Homo sapiens: one gene and its partners. The protein of the gene in region 2 interacts with the protein of the main gene of each other region in a biochemical or structural test. Each region holds a gene or a part of one and is shown on either strand. Other genes may lie near its edges.

The links.
Region 1: the proteins of PLD1 (region 2) and RHOA form a complex in vitro, tested with the Homo sapiens proteins (2 studies listed by BioGRID, with this or other methods).
Region 3: the proteins of PLD1 (region 2) and PEA15 form a complex in vitro, tested with the Homo sapiens proteins (one study listed by BioGRID).

Annotation. Positions count from the first base shown.
Region 1 is NC_000003.12:49,366,863-49,370,519, forward strand, and holds part of RHOA (transforming protein RhoA isoform 1 precursor), read right to left. Parts: intron 1,687-3,657; coding exon 1,566-1,686; intron 1-1,565. UniProt on the Homo sapiens protein: Small GTPase which cycles between an active GTP-bound and an inactive GDP-bound state.
Region 2 is NC_000003.12:171,602,173-171,604,619, reverse strand, and holds part of PLD1 (phospholipase D1), read left to right. Parts: intron 1-1,317; coding exon 1,318-1,542; 3' UTR 1,543-2,447. UniProt on the Homo sapiens protein: Function as phospholipase selective for phosphatidylcholine. Implicated as a critical step in numerous cellular pathways, including signal transduction, membrane trafficking, and the regulation of mitosis.
Region 3 is NC_000001.11:160,211,884-160,215,540, reverse strand, and holds the end of PEA15 (astrocytic phosphoprotein PEA-15), read right to left. Parts: intron 2,432-3,657; coding exon 2,276-2,431; intron 2,120-2,275; coding exon 2,055-2,119; 3' UTR 169-2,054; downstream 1-168. UniProt on the Homo sapiens protein: Blocks Ras-mediated inhibition of integrin activation and modulates the ERK MAP kinase cascade. Inhibits RPS6KA3 activities by retaining it in the cytoplasm. Inhibits both TNFRSF6- and TNFRSF1A-mediated CASP8 activity and apoptosis.

The DNA of each region.
Region 1 (3,657 bases), about 120 Mb from region 2:
AAAGGCTGTTTGTGGTAATGACGACAACATCCTTGACCCACCTGCTGCCCTGTCATGACAGGGAGGGCTGCAGCACAAGTTTATTAATAGATACCTCATCATCTTCAGCACAAACCTAAAGCAAGTTTTTTCAAGCCTGGTTTCACAGAATGTCAGGTTAGCATTCTTCAGTCTTTTTCTAAAGAATACTGACTTCTGGGCCAGGCGCAGTGGCTCACGCCTGTAATCCCAGCACTTTGGGAGGCCGAGGCAGGCGGATCACGAGGTCAGGAGATCAAGATCATCCTGGCTAACGTGGTGAAATCCCATCTCTACTAAAAAATACAAAAAATTAGCCGGGCGTGGTGGTGGCCACCTGTAGTCCCAGCTACTTGGGTGGCTGAGGCAGGAGAATGGCATCAACCCAGGAGGCAGAGCTTGCAGTGAGCTGAGATCAAGCTGCTGCAATCCAGCCTGGGAGACAGAGCAAGACTCCCTCTCAAAAAAAAAAAAAAAAAAAAAAAAGAATACTGACTTACTGACTTCTGAATTATGTGGCTGTGTTTAGGCTAATGAAATGATCACATTCAAGCTTCTATCAGCTAAGACACTTCAGAAAAAGGCTAAGACAGGGCAACCAAAAAAAAGAAAGTCTTTCCCCAAAAGAGATGGCTTTACATTTGGAACTCATCTAGTTTGCTCATCTTTTTTTTTGGGAGATGGAGTCTGCAGTACAGTGGCATGATCTTGGCTCACTGCAACTTCTGCTTCCCAGGCTCAAGTGATTCTCCTGCCTCAGCCCCTGGAATAGCTGGGATTACAAGTGCACGCCACCACACCCAGCTAATTTTTGTATTTTAGTAGAGACAAGGGGTTCACCATGTTGCCTAGGCTGGTCTCAAACTCCTGACCTCAGGTGATCTGCCAGCCTCGGCCTCCCAAAGTGCTAGGATTACAGGTGTCAGCCGCCGCACCAGCCTTAGTTTACTCATCTTTGTATCTGGAATTCATCTAGTTTACAAGGCAGTTAGATTTTTAAATAACATTTAATATTATTTAGTAATAATAATAATAATTATTATTTTTGAGATAGAGTCTTGCTCTGTTGCTCAGTCTGGAATGCAGTGCCATAATCTCGGCTCACTGCAATCTCCACCTACCAGGTTCAAACGATTCTCCTGCCTCAGCCTCCCAAGTACCTGGGACTACAGGCGTGCACCACCATGCCTGGCTAATTTTTTTGTACTTTTAGTAAAGACGGGGTTTCACCATGTTGGCCAGGCTGGTCTTGAACTCCTGACCCTCAGGTGATCCACCCGTCTGGACCTCCCAAAGCGCAGGGATTATAGGTGTCAGGCACCGTGCCCTGCCTAGGTGGATACATTTTAAATACAGTACCCATGGGAGACCTAGGCTGAAAGGGACCCAAGGCCCACGCTCTACAATCCCAAACTCCAGGACTCCGGCCACTGACGATGATTGCTTCTCTGAAGTTCATGTCTGCTTTTCAGCCACTTGATGCCCAGAAACCAGATGCCAACTAGCTACACAGGCAGTGACAAATATCAGGGTGCAGGGCCACTCACCTAAACTATCAGGGCTGTCGATGGAAAAACACATCAGTATAACATCGGTATCTGGGTAGGAGAGGGGCCTCAGGCGATCATAATCTTCCTGCCCAGCTGTGTCCCACAAAGCCAACTCTACCTGTAATGGGAAAAACAACCACAAGAGTGCAAGGTTAATCCCCCCACCCACTTTTAGAAAAAGTGACACTTACCATAGTACATTGAAATGGCAGACCATTGAAATGGCAGACGGTCTAAAACAGTAAAACACAGGAGTATTTACATTTTTTCTTTTTTCTTTTTTTTTTTTTTTTTTGAGATGTAGTCTTGCTCTGTCGCCCAGGCTAGAGTGCAGTGGCGCGATCTCTGCTCCCTGCAAGCTCCGTCTCCCGGGTTCACACCATTCTCCTGCCTTGGCCTCCCAAGTAGCTGGGACTACAGGTGCCCGCCATCACACCCGGCTAATTTTTTGTATTTTTAGTAGAGACGGGGTTTCACTGTGTTAGCCAGGATGGTCTGGATCTCCTGACCTCATGATCCGTCCGCCTCGGCCTCCCAAAGTGTTGGGATTGCAGGCGTGACCCACCGCGCCTGGCCTTTTTTTTTTTTTTTTTTTTTTTTTTTTTTTTTGTTGAGACGGAGTCTTACTCTGTTGCTCAGACTGGAGTTCAGTGGCAAGATCTTGGCTCACTGCAAGCTCTGCCCCCGGGTTCATGCCATTCTCCTGCCTCAGCCTCCTGAGCAGCTGGGACTACAGGCGCCCGCCACCACGCTTGGCTAATTTTTCGTACTTTTAGTAGAGACGGGGTTTCACCATGTTAGCCAGGATGGTCTTGATCTCCTGACCTCGTGATCCGCCTGCCTCGGCCTCCCAAAGTGCTGGGATTACAGGCATGAGCCACCACACCCGGCCGAGTATTCACTTTTATGAGCATCAAGCTCAAATGAGAGTATATTTAAATTATTTTAGGTTGAAATTTCTCAAAATTGAAAATCTGAGAACCCACCTCTACAAAAACACCTTAAAAATTAGCTGAGTGTGGCCAGGCGCGGTGGCTCATGCCTGTAATCCTAGCACTTTGGGAGGCTGAGGCGGGCTGACTGCCTGAGCTCAGGAGTTCGAGACCAGCCTGGGCAACATGGTGAAACCCCGTCCCTACTAAAATACGAAAGAAATTAGCCAGGCACGGCAGCGTGCGCCTGTAGTCCCAGCTACTGGAGAGGCTAAGGCAGGTGAATTGCTTGAACTCGAGAGGCAAAGGTTGCAGTGAGCCAAGATCGTGCCACTGCACTCCAGCACTCCAGCATGGGCGACAAAGCGAGCCTCCATCTCTAAAAAAAAAAAAAATAAATAAAATAAAACTTAGCTGAGTGTGGGCTGGGTGCGGTGGCTCACGCCTGTAATCCCAGCACTTTGGGAGGCCAAGGCGGGCGGATCACCTGAAGTCGGAAGTTCGAGACTAGCCTGACAAATGTGGAGAAACCCCATCTCTACTGAAAATACAAAATTAGCTGGGCGTGGTGAAGCATGCCTGTAATCCCAGCTACTCAGGAGGCTGAGGCAGGAGAATCGCTTGAACCCAGGAGGCGGAGGTTGCAATGAGTGGAGGTTGCAATGAGCTGAGATTGCACCACTGCACTCCAGCCTGGCCAACAAGAGCGAAACTCCATTTAAAAAAAAAAAAAAATTAGCTGACTGTGGTGGTGCACGCCTGTAGTCCCAGCTACTTGGGAGACTGAGGTGGGAGGACTGCTTGAGCCCGGGAGGCGGAGGTTGCAGTAAGCAGAGATTGTGCCACTGCACTGCAGCCTAGGCAGTGAGACCTTGACTCAATTAGGAAAAAAACAAAAAAACAAAACAGATACTAGAACTGAACCAAGTGGCATAATTCAAAATGTCAAGTCAAAAATAACTCTGTAGCTTATAAAAGTGTTTAATTATAAATAACATTCTACTAGGAAAGAAAGCAGACAGGAGGGAAGAAATCAAATTTTAAATAACATCCTACCAGGCATACAGGCGAGAGAGGAAGATACAAGACTAAGTAAATTTTCTGCTATAATGTGGAAACCATGGAAACAAATCTGTATTTTGAGTTGGTAGGTAGGA
Region 2 (2,447 bases):
AGAGTTGCGTAACAGTAGAACAGCTTACTTCGAAAAGTAGCTAGTTGCCCATCAGGGAAAACTATTCAAGCTGTGTTCTAGCCCAGACTAATTGACCATCTGTGAGAAGTTGGATAAGTCTGTGTTCTTCTTCATGACTTCCAGGGACAGACGTGAACCTCTTTAAAAAAAAAAATTAGGGAAAATACGCAATTTTTCTCTTAGAGCCCCTTCCAGCAGAGAAACTTATTATTCTTAATGAAACATGTCTACTGTCTGTATAACCTTGTTTCTTTTCTTTCTTTCCTTTTTTTTTTTTTTTTAATTGACATGGAGTCTCACCCTGTTGCCCAGGCTGGAGTGCAGTGGCATGATCTCGGCTCACTGCAATTTCTACCTCCTGGGTTCAAGTGATTCCCCTGCCTCAGCCTCCCGAGTAGCTGGGCCTACAGGTGCCCACCAGCACACCCAGCTAATTTTTGTATTATGATACAGGCTGGTCTTGAACTCCTGACCTCAAGTGATCCGCCTGCCTTGGCCTCTCAAAGTGCTAGGATTACAGGCATGACCCAATGCGCCTGACCCCTGTATAACCTTATTTCATCCTTATTTCATGGACCGAAGGCCATGATCAAATAGGTCATGTGCATAGAGTCATTAAAATGTAATTTTACAAATGCAGTGCACAGCCTTATTTGGGTCCTGGATTTGGGGGAAAACATCTATAAAAGACATTTTGGGGATAACAGGATAAATCTGAATATGAAGCATAACTTAAATGACATTATATAATTAATTTTCTTAGGTGTGAGAATAGTGCTGTGATTATATAGGCACATGTCCTTATTCTTAAGACATACCTGCAGAGAAGTATTCAGGGGTGAAGTGTTATGATATCCAAAACTCATTTTCAACCAGCAAAGTAAGTGTTACATATTAACAATTGATAATGCTATGTAAAGGTACAGATATGAGCCTCTTTCAAGAAAAGTTAGGGAAAATATAATATGCAATATTCCTCTTAGACCAGAAGCTCCAGTGAAATTCAGGGATGATTATTATCCAAAAAAAATTAACCTTAATGTGGGGTAACATTAGTGTAATTTCTTGCCACTAACCATGATTTTTTAAATGGAAGCAGATCTATCTGTTTGTAGCAGATCTATCTATTGTTGGTTATAAGATAACCAACTCTTAAATCAGGTCTGTGCTGTAACATAAGACTAATAATATGTTTCATACAACAGAGGTCTTGTCTGTTGGAATAATTATTTTCCATAAAGGCCATGTGCTCGCTTTTAAACTTTTCACTCATTTTTCTATTTATGCTCTAATCAGGTTTTCCGGTGCCTTCCCAATGATGAAGTACACAATTTAATTCAGCTGAGAGACTTTATAAACAAGCCCGTATTAGCTAAGGAAGATCCCATTCGAGCTGAGGAGGAACTGAAGAAGATCCGTGGATTTTTGGTGCAATTCCCCTTTTATTTCTTGTCTGAAGAAAGCCTACTGCCTTCTGTTGGGACCAAAGAGGCCATAGTGCCCATGGAGGTTTGGACTTAAGAGATATTCATTGGCAGCTCAAAGACTTCCACCCTGGAGACCACACTGCACACAGTGACTTCCTGGGGATGTCATAGCCAAAGCCAGGCCTGACGCATTCTCGTATCCAACCCAAGGACCTTTTGGAATGACTGGGGAGGGCTGCAGTCACATTGATGTAAGGACTGTAAACATCAGCAAGACTTTATAATTCCTTCTGCCTAACTTGTAAAAAGGGGGCTGCATTCTTGTTGGTAGCATGTACTCTGTTGAGTAAAACACATATTCAAATTCCGTATACCAAAATCCATTTCCTTTGTAACAAGAATTTACCAGTAACTGTGATCTAGGTTGCCAAAAGTTGTCTGAATCTCCTTATTCTTCTCTGATCTTCATTTATGCAGCCAATGTCTAGCTGGACCTGCCCTCATCTTGCAGTTCATACAGGCACTGTTTGAGAGATTGTTTATTATTAGATGTTGTAATGCTGCTTCAAGATTCTTCATGGTTACATGGGATGCCCCTGCTCATCTGGTCCTGAAGTAGTAACATTCACCCAAATGAGGATATAGTCATTATTCCTTTTCAGTCACTGTACGAACACGGCAGACTTTAGCCTACACAGTAGACTGTGTTAGGCACTTCTGGTAACATTGACACTGTATCTTGACACCACTAAGCAACAGGAAGGAATAAATTCCAATATTGAGACAGAGATTTATTTCATTTTGCTCCCAAAGGCACTGACAACATGAGTCCTTGTGATTAGGCCCACCTGATCAAATGTAAAAACATGCATGGGATATTTGATTACGTAACAACCAGCTAAAACTGAGAGCACACAGCCTTCGGAAACCCCCAAGGTGTCGAGGAGGATCAGATCCAGATAAGAGAAGATGATTCCTTCTAGTCCTGTAAAATTTCCT
Region 3 (3,657 bases), on a different chromosome or scaffold from region 2:
CACTCCATTTAGCTCAGTGATACTTAGGAGATTGGGTGGGGTGAGGGTATACACTTGGGGTATTTTCCCAGCCCTTATTCTGGGCCATAAATATTGTTCCCCCTCCCTTCCCAGTGATTCAAAGCCTGCAAAATCCTGGTCACTCACAGAAATTTTAAAATCAGTTAGTTGCAATACAATCAATCACCTTTATTCCGGGTTAGAACAAGGCCGTGCACACTGCAGACAGAAGAGCACAAGATAGGGGCAATCTCACAGCAATATAAGGAGTGGGTGGGCAGGTTAGTCTTTTTAGATTATTTTGCCTTACAGAGAAACTACTAGACTCTGCTGAAAAGAACCCTGTCTCTCTTCTCCCATTTCTTCCATAAGAAAGGCTCCTTATTCTCTCTCTCACTCTAATGTAACATATCCCAAATGGAAGGACAGTTCATGCTCATTCCCCCCACCCAATTCTACAAGTATCTCTCTCTTCTTAAGGGAGAAGCCAGACAGGGAAAGGGAGACTTGGGAAGGTCCTTTAAGGCAAAACTGTGGAGTCCTAGAGGTGTGTGTGTTAAGGCAGGTGTCTGCAGCAGTGGCCAGAGGGGCAGGGCACGCTAGGCTGGGCTAGGAGTTAAGAGTACTGTCTAACCAGTCTGGCTTCTTCCTTCTTCCAGCAGCCAGCCCTCCCCTCCCATTAAAGTTTTACTCCCACATCCTAAAAGCTCCTAACTTGAACTTTGTCTAAATAGTCTCTGAGACTGCATGTGAATTTAATGTTTTTTGAAAAAGCCTTCTTTTTTGTTTGGACTATGTAGCAATTTGATTCTGCCACTCCCTTCACTGTGGCATTCCCCTCCCACCCCCGCTCTGGCCTAGACAATAAGTTAATGCTAGACACCACAAAAAAGGGCAGACATGGCAGTGCAGTTTTAATATACATATATGTAGAATATATATGTACACACAGTTAGCACGGTCAGGGTGGGGAGGGGCATCTTGGGGTAGGCAGGAGGCTGGGGTCACTCACTGTACTGTAGTGATGTGGCTAGGAGGTGTTCACAAGCCCAGGGGGCCAGGATATCTAGTAAAGAAGGGTTTCCTAAGTAAGTCCCTTCCGGGATTGAATTGGGGTGGGGATCGGTGCAAAGGAAAACACTGTAGTTAACTTCTTTCTGGCTTGGGATGTTCTTCACCAAGGAGAGAGGGAAGGTTGCCTACAATAACCAAGTTGGGACCCTATAGATGGTGGTGTCAGGATTCGTGTTAAAACCTAAGGGTCTCATTCTTCAACCTCCCTAGGTTTAGAGTGCAACAGTCTGAGTAGGAACAACTGAGTGGAAGAGGGGGCTCCCCTCTCTCTGCCCTCATCCCCATCTCAGGCTCAGTGGTACATGTTCCCAGCACAGTCTCTCCAGAGTACAGGTGGGTGGGGGCATCTAACGCTGGCTGCTCCATGGGGTTTGATCTTAGGGACCAGGAAAGGATCCCTGGCTCATACCTATGCTAGGCCCATGAGAGACAAAAAGGGACCTGCTGGTACTCAGGAAACAGTCCAGCACAGGAGTACAAACATGGAACTCTGGCTTTTCTTTGCCCCTTCCAGGTGGGGGTTGAGTGGTCTCTTTGCCTTCCGTCCCCACTGCTTTTCCCTGGATCCACCTACCTCTCCCATACCTTACCCCTATGTCAGCTCCTCAATGTAGGAAAATGCAGGTCCTTTCTGCTTCCACACTTTAAAGATATGGGGGGAGTGGAGGAAAGGGAAGTAGGAGGAATGTGCTGATTTCTATTTGCATAGAAATAGCCCCCACCTCCTCCTAAAGTGGGGAAACTCAGCCCCCTCCCCTAGCCCCTGACCCCCATCCCCTTAAGAAGAGGAACTAGATGAGCTAGACATATAGACAAACAGCCAGAGCGTGCGCACACGCACACACACGCGCACAGTAAGGGGGTTAGGACCAGGTTAGTAAGTGGGTAGATGGTGGGTTGCCCTTGCCCCCTCTCCTGGAGGATGGGGGAAGGGAGTGGTCTGATGAAGGTCCAACCTTCCTCCTCTTCCTCCCCCTTGCTCAGGCCTTCTTCGGTGGGGGAGCCAATTTGATGATCTCTTCCTCAGAGGGCTGCCGGATAATGTCTGGGGGCAAAAAGGTATGTGTCCAGGGACAGCAGTGTGGGAGATGCCAGGCAGGCCCATTGGGCATCTGCCTCCACTCTCCCAAAACTCAAGTACTCCAAGGATAGTCAACGGGACGAGGCAGAGGTGCAGCTAGTTAAAGGAGTGGCCGCTTACCTTTGTACTTCTTGGCACTGGGGATACGGGTTAGCTTGGTGTCCAGCTCATCCTCCTCAGAGATCTTCAGCACACGGGTTCTGTAGTCAACCACCATAGTGAGTAGGTCAGGACGGCGGGAGATCTCAAAGATGTGCTCAATGTAGGAGAGGTTGTCTGGAGGAAGGCAGGAGATAGGGTCAGAGCTAGGCTGTAGAGGTCAGCTTCCCCTACTCCACCAGACTAGTGACCTGGAACCAAAGCTGAGTTGCTGACATTGGTTATGGGAGGGTACAACACTGGAGGAAGAGGGGCTACTAATCCAGGAGAAGAAAGCTAAGGTACCCAAACAACAATACAGAGGACTGTTCGCAGGAAGGGCAGATAGTTGGTCAGTGAAGTTTCTAGATTGTGGTTAGAATGAGGGGTTTAGCTTAGATACTAGCTCCCATATGTTGTGGGGAGGGGACAAAAGAAAAATCAACTTGACTTCCAGATACCCCACCCCCACCCCCATCCTTTTCCACTTTCCATCCAAGTAAGTATCAGAATTTGCTGACAGCACATGTAGGACCAGCAGGGTGGAATCTCTAGGCAACCCAGGAGAGATTCTGGGCCTGGTGAGAAAGGTTATTCTAAATGAGAGAAGGTATGGACACCACCAGAAGGACGATGTCCATGGCTTGGCCAATTCCAGGAGATTATAGATGCCCTTAGACCTTCTTCCCTGGCTCCTCCCCTCTGACTGTTGCCATACAGTCTAACTGTAACACGTCCTCCTTTATACGTTCTCCCTGCCAGCCACACAGCAGTCAGAATAGTATATCTGAAGGGCCCTGAGTTCACTCACCTCACCTATCCAATACCCAGGCTCTCTACAACACAGTCTTACCTTACCTTCCCAGCCATTTCTAAACACCCTACATCCTAGTCAAGCCAAGCAGGACTGATTGCATTTCCAAACACACTAGATACTCTGTGACAGTGTTCCTCTGCCTGGCATGCCCTCCTTTGGATCTTGCCTTAGAAATCCCACTCACCTTTCAGGGCCATCTTAAACACCAATTCTTCCCTAAAGCCTCCAGCTGTGAGGGATTACTCTAATCCATAGATCCCACTCCCCAAGCAGTAGTCTCTCAAAGTGGATAAGAAAATGATAGAACTTGTAGTTTTAAATTTTACCAGTTTTTAAAAAATGCTTAACAAAGATTAGTATTACTATTTACCAGTTAGATTACACTTCGAGTTCTCCCCTCATTCAGGTATTCTTCCATTTTTATTGTCTAGAATTCTTCCCAATTTTTGCCACTTAAAATTTTACTATTTTTAGATTGTTTTTATGTTCTGTTGTATATGTGATAATAGCACAGGAGTATCTGAATAACATTTTTTACCGATGAGGG